Regions from separate parts of the Homo sapiens genome. Here region 2 is linked to region 1. The links come from fine-mapping of genetic effects on gene expression. A gene starts in region 1. The other region holds a variant in brackets. All regions are shown on one strand. Distances are between the middles of the regions. Region 1 holds the start of ZFHX3-AS1 (ZFHX3 antisense RNA 1). Region 2 overlaps LINC01572 (long intergenic non-protein coding RNA 1572).

Region 1 (8,416 bases):
GAACTTCTTCTATTCAACAATACAGATACAGGTCAATTCCAGAAACCTCTCTACATCCACACAACCCCTGTATTTCTTATTCACCTGCTATAAATATTATTTGCTTGAGACTCTTGTTTTTGGTTTCTGCCAGTTTGTTTTTCTTTCCACTTTGTTTCATATGCTGCCTCTTTCAAGGTCTCTAAAAGGAGAAATACTCCCTCAATTCTCTGTATAACCATTTTCTTTTTCTTTGATCTCTTAGAAATCTTTATTAAACAAAGATTTTCCAATTTTTTCTTCACTCATACCTCTTTTCCAGGCTCTTAAATGACATTTCTTACTTGCCGAATTAATGGCTTATCATATTCCCTGTCGCTCAAGATTTAATCTTTAGAATTCTTTTTCAATAGTCCCTCTTCCCTACTCACTATGGTTAATAGATCAGTGTGTTCTTAAATCGAGGTTTTTAATTTAAATAATCTAAATCAAAATCATGAAGAAGGGTTGTTAAAAATGCTAGATTCATGTGCTTTACCCTGAATTAGCTGAAAAGGTTTTCAAGGATAGATCCCAGAAATCTTTTTAAATCAACAACCCATGTAAGACTTAGGCATACTACATTTTGAGAACTACTGCATTATATCAATTTTCACCTAAGTCTGCTCATTCTACCTTCTCAGTGTTTCTCATCCATTTATCTCCTATTGTCTCTACCCTAGTTCAGGGCTGCTTCATCTCTTAGCTGGACATCTGTAATAGGATTTTCCTGCCTTTAGGATATTTCCCACTTTAATTCATCCTACACACTGGAGTCTTATTAATCTTACTAAATTGCAGCTCTGCTCATTTAATGTGACAACAATTTACTGAGAGCATACTATATACTAGGTGCTCTAGGGCAGTAGATTCTAAATGGTGTGATCACCAGATTTATTAAGTGAGGGAAAACTTTTCAAAATAGAGATCCTCCACCACCTCTCCAGGCCTACTTAATTACAATCTTCAGAGCTAGAATTAAGACAAGTTTCTTTTTAAAAAGTTCCCCAATTGACTCCTTTGGGTAACACTAGATGCTTTTGAATAACATTAGACTGGAACAAATAAAGATTATGACATTCTTGTGTATTTCAGAACGTACTGGGAGGGATATGAACATAAGCAAATAGCTACCATATAATATGCCGATTAATGATATATTAGAGGTACCAAGTGCCATGAAAAGATTAATTCGAACTGCATTAAATACCTTCAGCACCACACCCAGCTGGATGAAATCTGTTTGTCCTGTAATCTTCCATAGCACTTTATCTATAATCCTCTTATGGTCTTCTTTCATCTTGCTCAATAATTATTTTTTTATTTGTCTCATTTCCTCTACCCTTGTACTTGAGGCCACAGTCTTGGTCTTTGTGGTGCATGTAGTCTGACAAGAAATTTTTTTTGGAGTTCAAATTTATTTACACGATAAAGTTACACAAAAAATTAAATTTTGTAAAGTTAGGTATTTAATAAATGATCTCAAAAATAGGTCCTTGTAACTCTAGGATATATGTAGCCAAACGTATGGATCTTAATCCCTGCATGGCACTTAGTACAGTTCCTTTAACACAACAAGTACTCAATAAAAAAAGCTGTGCATAAACCAATGGGGTCTGGGAAAAATGTATTTGGATATGCAATAAAAATACTTAATATGTCCAATATCCACCATCAGGTTATGATTCCAAACGAAGTAACATGGTGGTGGTTTTTGCAAACTGATAACCTGTAAGTCAAAACCAGCCAAACTGTTTTGTTTGGATGGCTCGGGTGGGGATGGAGGGTTGTTTACAATTTTAATTTGAATGTCTTCTGTCTGGGCAAATATACTTTGAATTGCCACAGGCCCTACCACTTCCTATTATCTTACACTAATCTGACTTACACATTTATGCTATCTATAGGTCTAAAAATGGGAGTTCTGAAAGGTGACAGATAATTGCTCCCAATCATTTCTGCTTTTTGAGTCTTGGCTACTGTTATGGCCTTGAGTCTCCCCAAAAGTTATATGTTAAAGGTGTAACCCCTAGTACTTCAGAAAGTAACCCTATTTGGAGATAAGGTGTTTGAAGAGGTAATTAAGCTAAAATGAGGTCTTTAACACGGGCCTAAATCCAGTAGGGTTGGTGTGCTTACAAGGAAAGAAAATTTGGACACAGGTGTGCACACACATGGAGAAAACAGCACATGAAGACAAAGAGATGAGACAGTGATCTGAGTCAAGGACAGAGACCTCAGAAAGAAACCAACCCTGCTGATACCTTGATCTTGAACTTCTAGCCTCCAGAATTGTGAGAAAATAACTTTCTGTTGTTTAAGCCACCTAGTCTGTGGCATTTTGTTATGTTTGCTCTAGCAAACTAATATGGATCTCAACTATATTTAGTATTAATCTTGGCAGTTTTACATCAAAACTTATTTGTTCAAGTCTGTCTGCCAGGTACATGGTGAACACAATTCTGAGTAGTTTAGGGTTTAGATGATGCAAGTTATATGTAAGATATATTCATAAACATAAATAAGAAACATTATAAAGAATACAAAAAAATGCCAAATAAAGACTATTATAGGCATTCAGGAGGGAGAGAGGTGACTATGGACTAGGTCACAAAAGATTCACAATTTGACCTGGGTCTTAAAAGCGTAAGTAGGATTCAGCCAAGCTGAGGAGAGAGGACATCAAGGAGATAACAGTGAACAATGCCAAATACATGTCTACTACCGGAGGAAATTTATTTTTCTCCTTTTAAGTACCTCTATGTTCAAGTTTCTTTTCTGTGCTTTCTAACCTCTAAGATCACTATATATTTTTAAATGAATGGTGTAAGTCCTTACAAAATTTAGGCATTTTTTTTTCTTGTCAGATAAATAACAGTTCAACTGACTTTGTTCAGTACAACACTGACATCCAAAGGATACTCGGGTTCATCTGAAGGCCTCTTGGGCTTCTGCTGAGTTGGTTTGATTTTCAAATGGTCTATGTAGGCAGTAAGCTGCTCATGGAACATTCTCTTTTGAAACCCTGGGCATTTTTTGATCTCTTACCCATTTATCAAATCTCATCACATTAAATGGCTCCACAATGCAGGTGGCCTGTGTTTTCCTAAGTGCCTCCTCTTCTTAAGAATGTATTACTCAGTTCATTAATGTTTCATACTTAAGTATTCTGTGTATTTAATTTTTTATTTAATGAAATTTCTAACCTTCAGGCTGACGAATTATTCAGAATGTTTCATCCAAGCTGTTGGAAAAGTGCTCATTAGCAGGGAGTTTTGAAGATGGAATTTTAAGAAAGGGGTTGGCAGGATCCCAAACACATATAGATCTAAGCTTTCATAAATGCTTCCCTACCTTAGCTATGGAGGAAGAAATTGTTGATAAGCAGATAAGTTTTGCTTTAGTTTTTACATTTTAGTGACAATAACAATGATTTCTGTGGTCTGATAAAAGATGTTCGTTTAAAGAGTTATCTGCAGAAAGCTGTGTGGTCACTAATGTTTACTTTCATTGACAAATGAGATCGTCTTGTGTGGGACTATCATCATCAAATGAGACACAACTGAAACTAAAGCAGCCATGCTTACCATTCGGTTTAAAATTTTTAAAATTAAAATAATGCTCCTAACGAAAGGAGTCTCAGCTGAATTAGTTTGAGTGTTGGCATGGACTGGGCTCAAATCACCTGCTCATCTTTAACACCTGCCTTCAGATTTATGGGCGATTAAGAACTTAAGTCTGAGAACCTATGAGACTGTCACAGAAAATAAAATTTCAGTTCTTCGTCCATTAACTGGTTCAGATGAAATTTGGGGTCAGAAACAACCAGAACGTTAAATTTCATTGTAAACTTAAATCGCATTCAATGGTTAAAGACTACAAAATGTATGTAGTGCAGTTAAAAAACCTCACACAGCAAGAGGTTATTGAATGTTTAAAGATCCAAAATTTCAACTTTTTGTGGTTAAGTACAGTTATGTTGGGTAACAAAGTTGACAGCAGGTTTCTGTTACCCCCCTGTTGGAGGAGGAGGAGGCGCTACCACACGCTTACCTTAGGGAAATAACGTGCACTTTATAACCGTTCAGGTAAATCGTTGGGTGAGAAAGAAGAATAAAGGACACAGCCGGTGGAGGGACCCCAGCACACAGTCCCGTGGGTGCTCCGGAGGAAACGGCCGCAGCCCCAAATCTCCTAGTCTCTCTAGCAGGGAGTTTTCCCGCGGAGTCTCGCCTGGCGGCCGGAAGCCACCTCAAGCCGCCCACCCGGAAGCCGTCGTCTTGGCAACTGGGTATCGTCCCACCCCCTTTTCTTAGCAACGCCTATCGCCTTAGACGTCTGAGGTCAGCCGAGCCTCGATTGGTTCCTCTGTCTTTCACTCTGGGAGACGTTTGAGACCCAGCGTCTCTAGATCTCGTATTTGAATTTGTGGCGCTTGGTGTCCGCGAGTTGCCGAATGAAGCTGAGCGTCTCAGTGGAACCAGGGATCTCAGGGGTGAGCGACCGCGAGGGGAGAGCGACGAAAAGGGCGGCCGGAGCTGGAGGGGCGCGGAGTTAAACAAAAAAGGGCGGCCGGAGCTGCAGGGGCGCCGAGTTAAACACGTCATTTCCAGATGGGGGGCTTCAGGCGAGCTGCTTAGCTCCCCTGAGGCAGGCCCTCCGTCTGTTCGCCTTTTCGTAGCCTCTGAGTTTTTCCCTCACGTCGTTTTCCGGCAGTCCCAGAGACGCCACGCCTGCCCCCGTTCTGTTGCCCCTGATGGAAGGCTCCTCTTAACGCTACCTTCCCTCTTTCACAAAATGTCTCTCAGCTTCCTTATTTCGACGTGCTTACACCTCCCCCAAGTATAATTCACTCCCCACTGATGTCTTTGGTAGTTTCATCCTCGTCTTCATCACTAATACTATGAGACACGGGGTGCGTGCACTTGACGATGTAGAAAAATGGTTTTCGCGCAACCTGGTGAGCGTCCCACACCTCACAAATTGAATCCAAAAAATTCCTTATTCATAAAAGATGCTGCTGTCCTACTCTTCCCGACCGGGAATATCATGACGTGGAAAGCAGCAAGTGACAGCGTTTTATAAAGCGCTACAAAAGTAAGCTATTGATGCGTTCACATCGGAAACATAATTGTTTTGTTTTCGGTCGGACCCTCTGGATCCATAGGTTTCGTATTGGGTTTATGGATACTGTTCAGACTTTGAAATGAATAATGCCAAAAGTTACGTTGGAGGACAAACTGAGGATTGATCCCAAGCACAAAAGTAACCACTGATTAAAACCTTCTCTTCATTAACCTTTAGCTTCTTTGTCTATTGTGATACTTCTCCCACCCCGGTGGATTTAATTTCCATTGAGATTTATGAACATTTTAGGAGTTTACAGTCTAAATAGACAGCTTTCCCCACCTCTCCTGTATATGACCATGAAAATCCTCTATTAACTTTCCAGTTTGATAATGCAGTATGAGCTTCTATATGCTTAGCCTCTAGAACAGAGATTCTTTTGGGGGTGGGGGGTCTTAGTCCTGTTTAAGACCCAGAGGAAAACCTTGGAGCTTTTCTCCAGAATATGACACATACACACAAAATTTTGTATTAGTTTTAGAGAGTTGTATTTTGTTTTAGTAGAAAAGAGATCTGACTTTGTTGCTCAGACTGATCTCCAGTGTCAGCCTCCCAAAGGGTTGGGATTACAAGCGTGAGCCGCCGAGCCCAACCCTGTTTTAGGGAGTTTTAGATTCTGTTTTGAAATGTGGATATTAGTGGGACCCCAGTCCAATTCTACACGTTTATTTATATATATACACACACGTATGTCTATATATATAATTATATATATTTACATAATATATATCTATGTATATAATTTTTTTAAGTAGAAATAAGCAGCGAAACAGTGTTTTAACTTCTACCGAATGGCTGTCATTTCTTAGTTTTAAGACTTGTAGTTCGGAGGGAGGTGGAATGAGAAGGCTGAAAATTTTACATGAGCTCTGATTTAAGGATATTAGAAAAGTCATTTCTAAGTGTGGCGGTCCACGCCTGTAATCCCAACCAACACTTTGGGAGGCTGAGGTGGAAAGACTGCTTCAGCCCAGGAGTTCGAGACCAACCCAGGAGTTCAAGACGATAGTCGGACCCCATCTCTACAAAAAAATTTTAAAATTAGCCAGCCGTGGTGGTGTTCGCCTTGCTCCCAGCTACTCAGGAGGCTGAGGTGGGAGGATCACTTGGGCCGGGGAATTCCAGGCTGCAGTGGCCAATGATCGTGCCTATCTCCAAAACAAACAAACAAAAAACAGAGAGATAAAGGTAGTAAGGTAGTATATGAGCACAGGGGCATACCAAAAAATAAGTTCACAAGGTATTGCATCCAGAGTCTTTTTGAATTAACAAGAAATAGGAAAATTCTTGATCAACATGAAGAGTGAAAATAGTTTGTGTGCCTTAATTTTTTGGATGTTTTATATTAAAATAATTTTATGGTGAATTCTACCAGCATATACCTGAATATAATCTCATAATCTTCTTCCTAACCATCTCAGGCATTATCTTTCACATGAGAACATTAGCTTACCTGAAATTTGCTTTTATATATGATGTGAGGAATGGCTTTAACTAAATTTTTTTTCACTGTTCGGTTGCCATTTTGGGGAGATTGGTCTTCAGTTTTGCTTTATTTTGATTGTCTGGTTTTAGAATTAGGGTAATGGTGTCTGACATCTTTAAGTGATCTGGGATGTGTTGTATTCTTTACTTCTTGAAAAAGTTTGTATAAGATTGGCATTGCATTGTTAAGTGTTTGATAGAATACATCCATCTATGTAGATCCATATTTTCATAATTTTCCTTCAGTTTGAATAACTTCATTTATTTAATACTGCATGTAGGTGAAGGATTCTGTCAGTGTTTGTTTCTTAGAAAATGTTTTTATTTAACTTTCATTTTTGAAAGATTTATTTTTAAACTGGATATATAATTGTAGGTTGACTTTTTTTAGCACTTTAATATTCTATTGTCCTCTGGCTGTTGTTTTTAGATATTTGGTGTCATTCTTATCTTTGTTCTCCTGTATATAATGTCTCCCCCAACCCCATCCCACCTCACCCTCACTTTTGAAAAAACAAAGTCGGGCATATTTAGTCATAATTTGCATATGGTAAAGTTGACTCTTTTAAGGAATACTGTTCTATGAGTTTGGACAAATGTGAAGAGTTGTGAACTATCACAATCATTTTTAGTATATCTGTAAGTCTGTAAAGTCTCATGCACTTATTATCGATTTTCTATCCTCACCATTGGTCCCTAGCAACCCTTGATCTGATATCTACTGCTATAGGTTTGTGTTTGGAGGCATCATGTTAGTGGAATCACATAGTATGAGCTGGTAGTGTCTGGCTTCTTTCACTTGATATAATACTTTCAAGATTCATCTATGTTCTTGCATGTATCACTAATTTTTTCTTTTAATGTGTGAGTAGTATTCCATTATATGTATTACCAGTTTGTTTATCCATTCAGCAGTTAATGGGCTTTGAGTTGTTTCCAGGTTTTGGCTGTTAGTAATAAAGCTGCTATAAACATTTGGCTACAGGTGTTTGTGTGGCCAAAGATTTTAATTTCTTGCTTGCTTGCTTGCTCTTTGCTTTTTTTTTTCCTCTCTATTTTTGTTTTGTTTTGTTTTGTTTTGTTTTTGAGGTAGGATATGGCTCACCATAACCTCGAATTCCTGGGCCTCAGCCTTTTCAAGTAGCTGGGACTACAGGAGCATGTCACCAGGCCTAGCTAATTTGTAATGTTTGGTAGAAAAAAGGTCTTGCTATGTTGTCCAGGCTGGACTTAACCTCCTGGTCTTAACCTCCTGCCTCAAGCAATCCTTCCACCTCAGCCTCCCAAAATGTTGGGATTATAGGTGTGAGGCACCATGCTCAGCCTTAATTTCATAAAATACTTTAAAACCTTTTTCAAAAGTGGCTGTCCCATTTTGCATTCCCATCAGCTGCATATGGCAGTTCCAGTTATTCAACAGTCATATCAGCCCTTGGGGTTTATAGTAGTTAGTAGTTTAAATTTTTTAAACTATTGCTCTGGGTCTGTACTGATGTCTCATTGTAATTTTAAGTTATATTTCTCTGATGCTTAATGAAATAGAGTAGTCAGTCATTCATCCACTTGTTATCTGAACGTCTTTTGTGAAGCATCTATAAAAATGTTTTGCCCTTTTTTTTTTTTTTTTTTTTTTGAGATGCAGTCTCACTCTGTTGCCCAGGCTGGAGTGCAGTGGTGCGATCTCAGCTCACTGCAGCCTCCTCCTCCTGGGTTCAAGCAGTTCTCCCACCTAAGTCTCACGAGTAGCTAGGATTACAGGCGCACGCCACCATGCCCAGCTAATTTT
Region 2 (8,416 bases), 260 kb after region 1:
TATCTGCTGGTATTTTATATATTTTACATATTAACCATTATCCCAATTTTAAACTGACTTCACATTTTACTGATCTTCCTGGCAAAATCAGACTCCCTGAGTTTAAGTATAATAACTTGCCCCATGTTATGTAGGTAGTAAGCAGCTGAGTAAAACTAGAAAGCTAAGACATAAGCCTCTAAGCCAAAGCTTTTTCCTTCATTCCAGCATTTCTCAATCTAGGAATCCTGAAAGGCTGGGATGTCCCCAGATGTCATCTTATAACAAAGTTTTTTATTCTTTCAACAAATATTGACTGAGTGCTTATTATGTGTTGGACACTGTTCTGGGCACTTGAGATACATTATGAAAAAAGAAAAATGTTGCTGCCCTGAGCTTAAATGAGCTTACATTCTTGTGGGAATAGAGGAGATAGACAATAAACAAATAAAGAAGTAAAATATATAATATGTTAGAAGGTGACAAGTGCTATAAAAAAAAATTCAACAGTTTAAAATTGTGCTTTTATCTTTTTAATTATATTTAACAATGATAATGCAAATAATCTTAGTAACCTCTTATAACAAAATACTCCAACCTGGGCAACAAAGTGAGACTCTGTCTCTATGAAAAATTAGCTGAGCATAGTGGCACGGGCCTATAGTCCCAACTACTCAGGAGGCTGACCTAGAAGGATTGTTTGAGCCCCAGGAGGTCAAGGCTGCAGCGAGCAGTGTTGATGGCCCTGCATTCCAGAACAATTATTTGGTATTTTCTCTAGAAACACAATTATTTGGTTGTGTTTGGCTAGATAAGAGAATGCAAAAAATGTCATCGTACAATGTAAAACTGAAGGTCCCATAGTGGTTTAAAGAGGATTGATCTGTAACATAGCATGTGGTAGTAAAGGCAACATGAACCCAAATGAACACTGCTGTCTTTGTTACCATCTTGAATTTGAAATAGTCATTGTATTGCGGAGACCATATTTTTGTATGTGCCTATTTGAAACAATTCTGTGGTGCCAAATACCCTGTTCCAAATCCCATCAGATTATTTAATGCAAATTGAAATAATAGGAATATTTAAACTTACCTTTAAATAAAAGTTCTATAATGTTAACAATGACACTGATACAGTTTGGCTGTGTCCCCACTCAAATCTCATCTTGAATTCCCACATGTTGTGGGAGGGACCCAGTGGGAGATAATTGAATCATGGGGGGCGGTTTCCCCCATACTGTTCTCTTGGTAGTGAACAAGATCTGATGGTTTTATCAGGGGTTTCCACTTTTGCGTCTTCCTCATTCTCTCATTTTTTGCCTGTCATCATCCACATAAGATGTGACTTGCTCCACCTTGCCTTCCAGTATGATTGTGAGGCTCCCCCAGCCACTTGGAACTGTTTAAGTCCAATTAAACCTCTTTCTTTTGTAAGTTGCTCAGTCTCGGGCATGTCTTTATCAGCAGCGTGAAAATGGACTAATACAGACACCTTATTAAAATAGGCATTCAAAGATTGTTTCTGAGCAGGACTTTGTTAAGTCTGATCATACTGTACTATCAAACAAAGCCTTTACATTGTGAAAACTATTTTTTAAATAAAGGTTTAACTTATTAAAGTACAGAAATCTTGAGTGTACAACTCAATGAACATTAGTGCCATTTTATAAAACATACTTCTGTAAAGAGGCAGTGTCCACAGTAGTAACATGAAAATTTAAAAATATTAAATTTAGAAATATAGAACACCAAATAATAAATTTAACTATAGACACATGCCTGAAGAAATACCACCTTACATTAAACCTAACATTAGCAATTTTAGTAAAACAAAATAATTTATCATACTATTTTTATTTAAATACTGATTTTACAATTTTTTAAAATTTATTTTAGTTTTATAGTTATAAGAGCTTAAGAAAATGCATTAAACCTAACTTTATGATTTTATGTTTCCATGTATTTAAGTAATATAACATTAAGATTATGCAGAATTTCATTTTAAAGGGTCTGTATAGTTCTTACGTTTGAGAAACAATTTACTATGCAGCATTGTCTTCCTCTAAGTAGAAATTTATTTGATAAACAATGAATTTATTTGAGTACCTTTAATGAAAAGCTGTAACTTTTCTTGTTTAATGCCAAGTTGCAATTTGGTAGGGTAACGACTTCTATAGAAATATAATCTACATCTATCCAGTCCTCACTTGTGATCCTATCAACAAGTAGTGGTTATTCAAGTTGTTGATCAGCCTCAAACTATATTGTCATTACAAAAATTTTATTTTTATTGGGAAATTTTTATACATATTAATTTTCCCATATAGGTTCTTATTACAGAAACTTTAATTATTCTATCCTTTGCCCTATTTTTATGTTAACATTTTTATAATTCCAAATTCCTGAATTCTTGAATCTAGATTATTAAAAGACTTGATTGAAGTAGACTTAACTTAGTAACCACAACTTATATGCAATGACTAATCTGTGTTTCCCAGGTCAATTCTGGGGAAGATTTGTGGATGTGAATTGGAGCATGTGTTTACATCATGGCATTGAAAACAATTTTAAATTCAATATTAGCCATTCCCATTCTTTTTTTTTTTTTTTTTTTTTTTTTTTTTTTTTCGTTTTTTGAGACAGAGTTTCGCTCTTTCACCCAGGCTAGAGTGCAGTGGCACAAGCTCGGCTCACTGCAACCTCCGCCTCCTGGGTTCAAGTGATTCTCCTGCCTCAGCCTCCCGAGTAGCTGGGATTACAGATGCGTGCCACCACACCTGACTATTTTGTATTTTTAGTAGAGACAGGGTTTCACCATGTTGGCCAGGCTGGTCTCGAACTCCCGACCTCCAGTGATCCACCCAACTTGGCCTCCCAAGGTGCTGGGATTACAGGCATGAGCTACTGCACCCGGCTGCCATTTCCATTCTTACCCTACTATGAATATAATTAAAGCCATTACATTGTATACTTGGAATGGGTAGGTTGTATTATGAATTGTATTTCAATGAAGGCATTTTTTAAAAATTAGAGCCATGTGACCAGGTGCAGTGGCTCACACCTGTGATCCCAGCACTTTGGGAGGCTAAGGCGGGTCGATTACTTGAGGTCAGGAGTTCAAGACCAGCCTGGCCAACATGGTGAAACCCCATCTCTACTAAAAATACAAAAATTAGCCAGGTGTGGTGGCACACACCTGTAATCCCAGCTACTCAGGAGAATGAGGCAGGAGAATTGCTTGAGCCTGGGAGGTGGAGGTTGCAGTGAGCCAAGATTGTGCCACTGCACTCCAGCCTGGCCGACAGAATGAGACTCTGTCTCAAAAAAAAAAAAAAAAAAAATTAGAGCCATGTAACAGTCTGTTTCTATTTACCATCTCATCCTTTGTGATATTATCTTATAGGTAATATATACATTAACCGAGAAGGTGTTATTATATTTCATTAGTCATTTTCTTTTAAAGATAAGAAAAAGTATAGTCCTTTATAGTTACCCAAGTATTTACCATTTCATATTTCTTCATTCTTTCTCTATAAATTTTCATCTGATTTTTCTCACCCTGAAGAATTTATATTTCTTTTAGAACCATTCTGCTGATAACAGGCTCTCTCAATTTTTTCTGAAAATTTATTTATTTTGCTTTCATTTTTTAAGATGATTGTTTTCCTAGGTAGAGATTGTAAGATTGGCAGTTCCTGCTTCCCTCAGCACTTTAAGATGTTCCATTATTTCCTCACCTCCATTGTTTCTGATGAGAAATCAGTAATAATTTGTATAATTGTTCCCCTGTTTATAATGGAGCTGTTTTTCCTCTGGCTGCTTTTCTCTTTATTTATGTTTTCAACTGTTCGGTGAAAATGTGCCTAAGTGTGGTTTCTTTGTATTTATCTTAATTGGAGTTCAGATCTTGTATCTATAAATTTATGTCTTTCATAATTTAGGAAAAATTTGGTCATTATTTCCTCAAATCTTTTATTATACTGCATTTTCACAGCTCTGAGAATACATTTAAATATAACTTAAAACCACTTAAATATAGTCCCACAGAATAGTGAGTCTTTGTAGGTTTTTTTCAATATTGTTTCTGTCTCATCTTCAGATTGAATATTTTCTATTGATGTATTTTCAAGTTCACGGCTTCCTTTCTTTGGCTTTCTCCAACTTACTTTTTTTCCATCCACTGTTTCTTCATGTGTTTAGTAGTTTTTAATTGTGCTATTGTGGAGGCTATGGCTATCTTTAAATACTGCTGATTTTGTTCTAGCAAGCAATTCAAGGGACTGAGCTCAAAAATGAAACTCCTCCCTGAGCTAAACTCTTCACTCATTTTTTTTAGCCTTCCAGCTGTTGTTTTTTGCCAGGTCCTCTGCACATGCATTAATCAAGACCAGCCAAGGATTTGAGGGGGTTTATATGAAGATTTTATACCTCCAGGCCCTCAGCTTTCTCCTGTCTGAGGTCTTCCCATGATTTTCTAGCAATTCCATCAGCCCAAAATTTTTTCCTTTGAATCCTCAAATCAGGTAAGACTATAGCTTTCTGCTTGCGTTCCAGCCGTTTCATGTGGTGTAGACTGACTGGAAAGAGCCTTTAAGTGAAAAGCCAGATGCAGAATCAATGCAGTTCCCCTTTCAGTTTCTACCTGCTTTAAGTTGTCCCAGTGCCTTCAAATAGTTGTTTTTATATTTTTCCCCAGAATGTATTGCTGTCTATTGGAAGGTTAACATAATACAAGTCAATCTACCATTGCCAAAAGTGTAACGGCATCATAATTTTAAAATTTGGATAATACTTTTGCACATAGAATGTTCCTTTTTTATGCCCTCTCGTTCTTGTCTCATGAATGCAATCAAAATATTTTCTTATTTAACAATATTGATTATGGGTCTTATGAGATTATTTTCTGCTTCCTGTTCTCTTTTCGTCAATTTTTTTTTTTCCTTATTCAGCTTTTTAGTGTATGGAGAGAGGAACTTTGTTTAGATATCTGGTCCTTGACTTTCCATTCATATTTGAGGGTGAGGTTCTAAAAAGACAATTGAAATCTTCTTGTGCATAAATGTGGATTGTTATCTGTTGAAATCAATGTTAGACAGAATGAC[T/G]AGTCATTTTATTAGGGATCTCCAAATGTCAGTATTACGAAGTCTCTTATTTTATGATGGTGCTATTTCAGAGAGGATTTTTCTAAGTTCCTGTCTTGAAATTATGAGTTTGGTTGTCAGCATTCTTGGAGCCACACTGGGGAAAGAAGCTGGCATGGTGATATGGTTTGGCTTTGTCCCCACCCAAATCTCATCTTGAATTGTAGCTCCCATAATTCCCACATGTCGTGGGAGGGGCCTAGTGGGAGGTAACTGAATCATGGGGGCAGGCTTTTCCTGTGCTGTTATCGTGATAGTTAATAAGTCTCACAAGATCTGATGGTTTTATAAAGGACAGAGACTAAGTCTAGAAAGTCCTTCAAACTTATTCACCCTGGTACTATGGGTACCCTTAAAGAAAATATTTGTATATGCATGCCCAGATTCAAAGATGTGAGCCTCATACATTGGTACGTGAAGACCTGGCTGTGAGCCAAAGTCACAAGAAATGTAGGTAAGTACAGCTGGGCTCCTCCCATGCATTGAGAGGTACTCACAGGCTCAGCCCTAAGCAGGCTTGCACTGGGCAGGTTTTCAGAAAAAAGCCATGCCCAATTTATTGTTGCTTATCCAGCAATGACCAAGAATTATGGCATCAGAGTATTTAAATAGTGACAACAAAGAACATGCTGGGGCTGCTGGGTTCTCCTTGTTTCAATAAGGATATCTTGTGCCAGTGACATTAGTAACAGCTGTAAAGAATTCAACTGCTTGGTTGACTAGTCAGAGGATGCTTACCAGAACTGACCTGTAAGTCTGAATAAGCATCCTTAGAGGTCTTGAAGTTGTCAGCAAAGCAAACATCCTGGGGAGAAAATAAAGCATAGAGACATTTAATTTGAAAATTAAAAGGAATATGACATTATTATGTATCTTAGGCTTATGATAACAGATGTGTGTATACACATATAACAAACATTATATATGGACTGCAAAGTACTTGAAAATGATACCATATCAACAACTGTGCACTTAAAAATTCTGAATAAAGAGCACAGATACTAAGTAGAGACAAATTTTATCCATGAACAATCAGTCCAGGAAAGATTCCTGAAGTTAACTTCTCAGCTGGATTTTGAAGAGGATGAAGCCTATGTATCTTTATGGATGAAAGAGGGAAGTGATATAAATTCTAGGCTACCAAGCCAAAAAAAAATCAAGTTGAATTTTATTTATTTAATTGTAGAACAAATGATCAGCAGCAGAAGTCTCCCCACTGACCCCTAGCCACACACACACCCTTTTTTAATGATCTGCCACTCATCACAGTAATGAAGATGTTCTTTAGGCAATGTTATACCATATGGCCTAAAAGCTTAGAAGGCAAGAAAAGTCAAACCTGAGAATAGCAAACATAGTGAGCAGCTGAAGTGGAATATCTTTTATGGAAATAAACTCGTAGTTAATAAAACAGTAGTTCTAACAATGAAGTACCTTGAGTAATAAACTTACTGATTAATACGTAGCCAATGGGATACTTGAACTGAAGAATAATATTGTACAAATAATCTCAAAGTTTAGTTGGTGTACGAAAAGTCAGATGATGAGAATTTTCTAGCGCTTCCTTCTGCAATCATCTACACATGAGATAGTTAAGGCCAAATGATACAGTTGGCTGTATCCCCACCCAAATCTCATCTTGAATTTTAGCTCCCGTAATTCCCACGTGTTGTGGGATGGACCGGGTGGGAGATAACTGAATCATGGGGAGGATTTCTCCCATACTGTTCTCGTGGTAGTGAATAAGTCTCACGAGATCTGATGATTTTATAAGGGGTTTCCCCTTTCACTTTGCTCATTCTCTTGCCTGCCGCTATGTAAGATGTGCCTTTTGCCTTTTGCCTTTTGCCTTTCGCCTTCCACCATGATTGTGAGGCCTCCCCAGCCACGTGGAACTGTGAGTCCATTAAACCTCTTTTTCTTTATAAAATGCCCAGTCTCGGGTATGTCTTTATCAACCGCGTTAAAACAGACTAATACACCAGAGATCTGGGAAGTAGAGGAATTGGAAGCTGGGAGTAGGAGTATGGGGAGACCAAAGTTGTTACAAAGAAGTGATTAGCAGAATTTTTAATTGTAAGTTAAAATAGCAGTAGGGAAAAAATGATACCACAGCTTTCAGCCTGGAAACACTCAAGATGTTGTTGATAGTGATGGGGAAATTAGTGAAGATGACTCTTCGGGGAGATGGACTTGTTTTTAAATATGATGTTTCAGGAGTTGTATGGCATTCAAACTGAAATGTTCCATGGACAATGGTGGAGAGAAGTATAATCGTAGATGGCAGTATGGTAGCCCAAACTTGATAACATCTGAAGCCATAAAACTTATTTAGATCCTCCAGAAGGGGTATCAAAGGAGTAAGAAACTTGGAATTTAGCCTTGAAAGTGCCCAGTTGTAGGAAATGAACTAAAGATGGACACATCAGAGAGAGTTGGAAGGAATTGTTGAATCTCTAAATTGTCATAAATCCATACAATCCATATAATAGACAATGTTATAAATTCACCTCAAAATCTACCAAAGGGGACCTCCAGTAAGCTATTAAGAACCTGAAGACAGTGTTTTACTCAAGCCAAAGCAAGAGAGAAGAGAAATAACTGTGCTGGTTTACACCGAATTACATTACAGGATTATACAGGGCTTTTCCAGACAGTATCTTGACTTCTACAACAACTTACTGAAATGATTGTTTTTATGCTCCTTGTACTGATGAGGAAGGGAAAGAAGGACTAATTGCCTAAATTTCTAGAAAATGGAAACAATGTGGAGAAACCACTGAATCTGGACAAGGAAGACATTTCCGAAAAGATTGAGTCTCTCAAATTTCACATTGTGATTGGGGAAAAATTCTTTCCACATAGGCCTTATTTTGTATTTCCTTTTTTTTTTTTTTTTTTTTTGAGACAGAGTCTCACTCTGTCACCCAAGCTGGAATGAATCTCGGCTCACTGCAACCTCCTCCCACTGGGTTCAAGCAATTCTCGTGCCTCAGCCTTCTGGGTAGCTGGGACTACAGGCACCCGCCACCACACCTGGCTAATTTTCTGTATTTTTAGTAGAGATGGAGTTTCACCATGTTGGCCAGGCTGGTCTCGAACTCCTGACCTCAAGTGATCCGCCCACCTCAGCCTCCCAAAGTGCTAGGATTACAGGCATGAGCCACCATGCCTGGCCAGCCTTATTTTAAAGATGAGAATTTCTGAACTCTTAACAATCCTTGCTGATAGTAGAAGACTTTCTGTAGTTTGTCATGGAGCAGTCTCCCATAATTCAGAGCAGTAATAAGCAAA

The links. PIP is the estimated chance that this variant, and not a neighbour inherited with it, causes the effect.
Region 2: its variant is fine-mapped to the expression of ZFHX3-AS1 in whole blood (TOPMed, PIP above 0.99).

Annotation. Positions count from the first base shown.
Region 1 is chr16:72,660,989-72,669,404 of GRCh38, reverse strand. It overlaps ZFHX3-AS1 (ZFHX3 antisense RNA 1), which reads right to left and starts at 4,272. Exons shown (of 4, transcript NR_171704.1): 1 at 4,072-4,272. LINC01572 (long intergenic non-protein coding RNA 1572) reads left to right here and starts at 4,435. Exons shown (of 14, transcript NR_126330.2): 1 at 4,435-4,513. RefSeq lists enhancers at 4,474-4,533, 4,574-4,693.
Region 2 is chr16:72,401,910-72,410,325 of GRCh38, reverse strand. All of the region lies in intron 7 of LINC01572 (long intergenic non-protein coding RNA 1572), which reads left to right. Among named protein-coding and RNA genes, the nearest start is that of PMFBP1, 230 kb to the right of the region's middle. The variant T/G (reference allele first, on the strand shown) is at 5,084.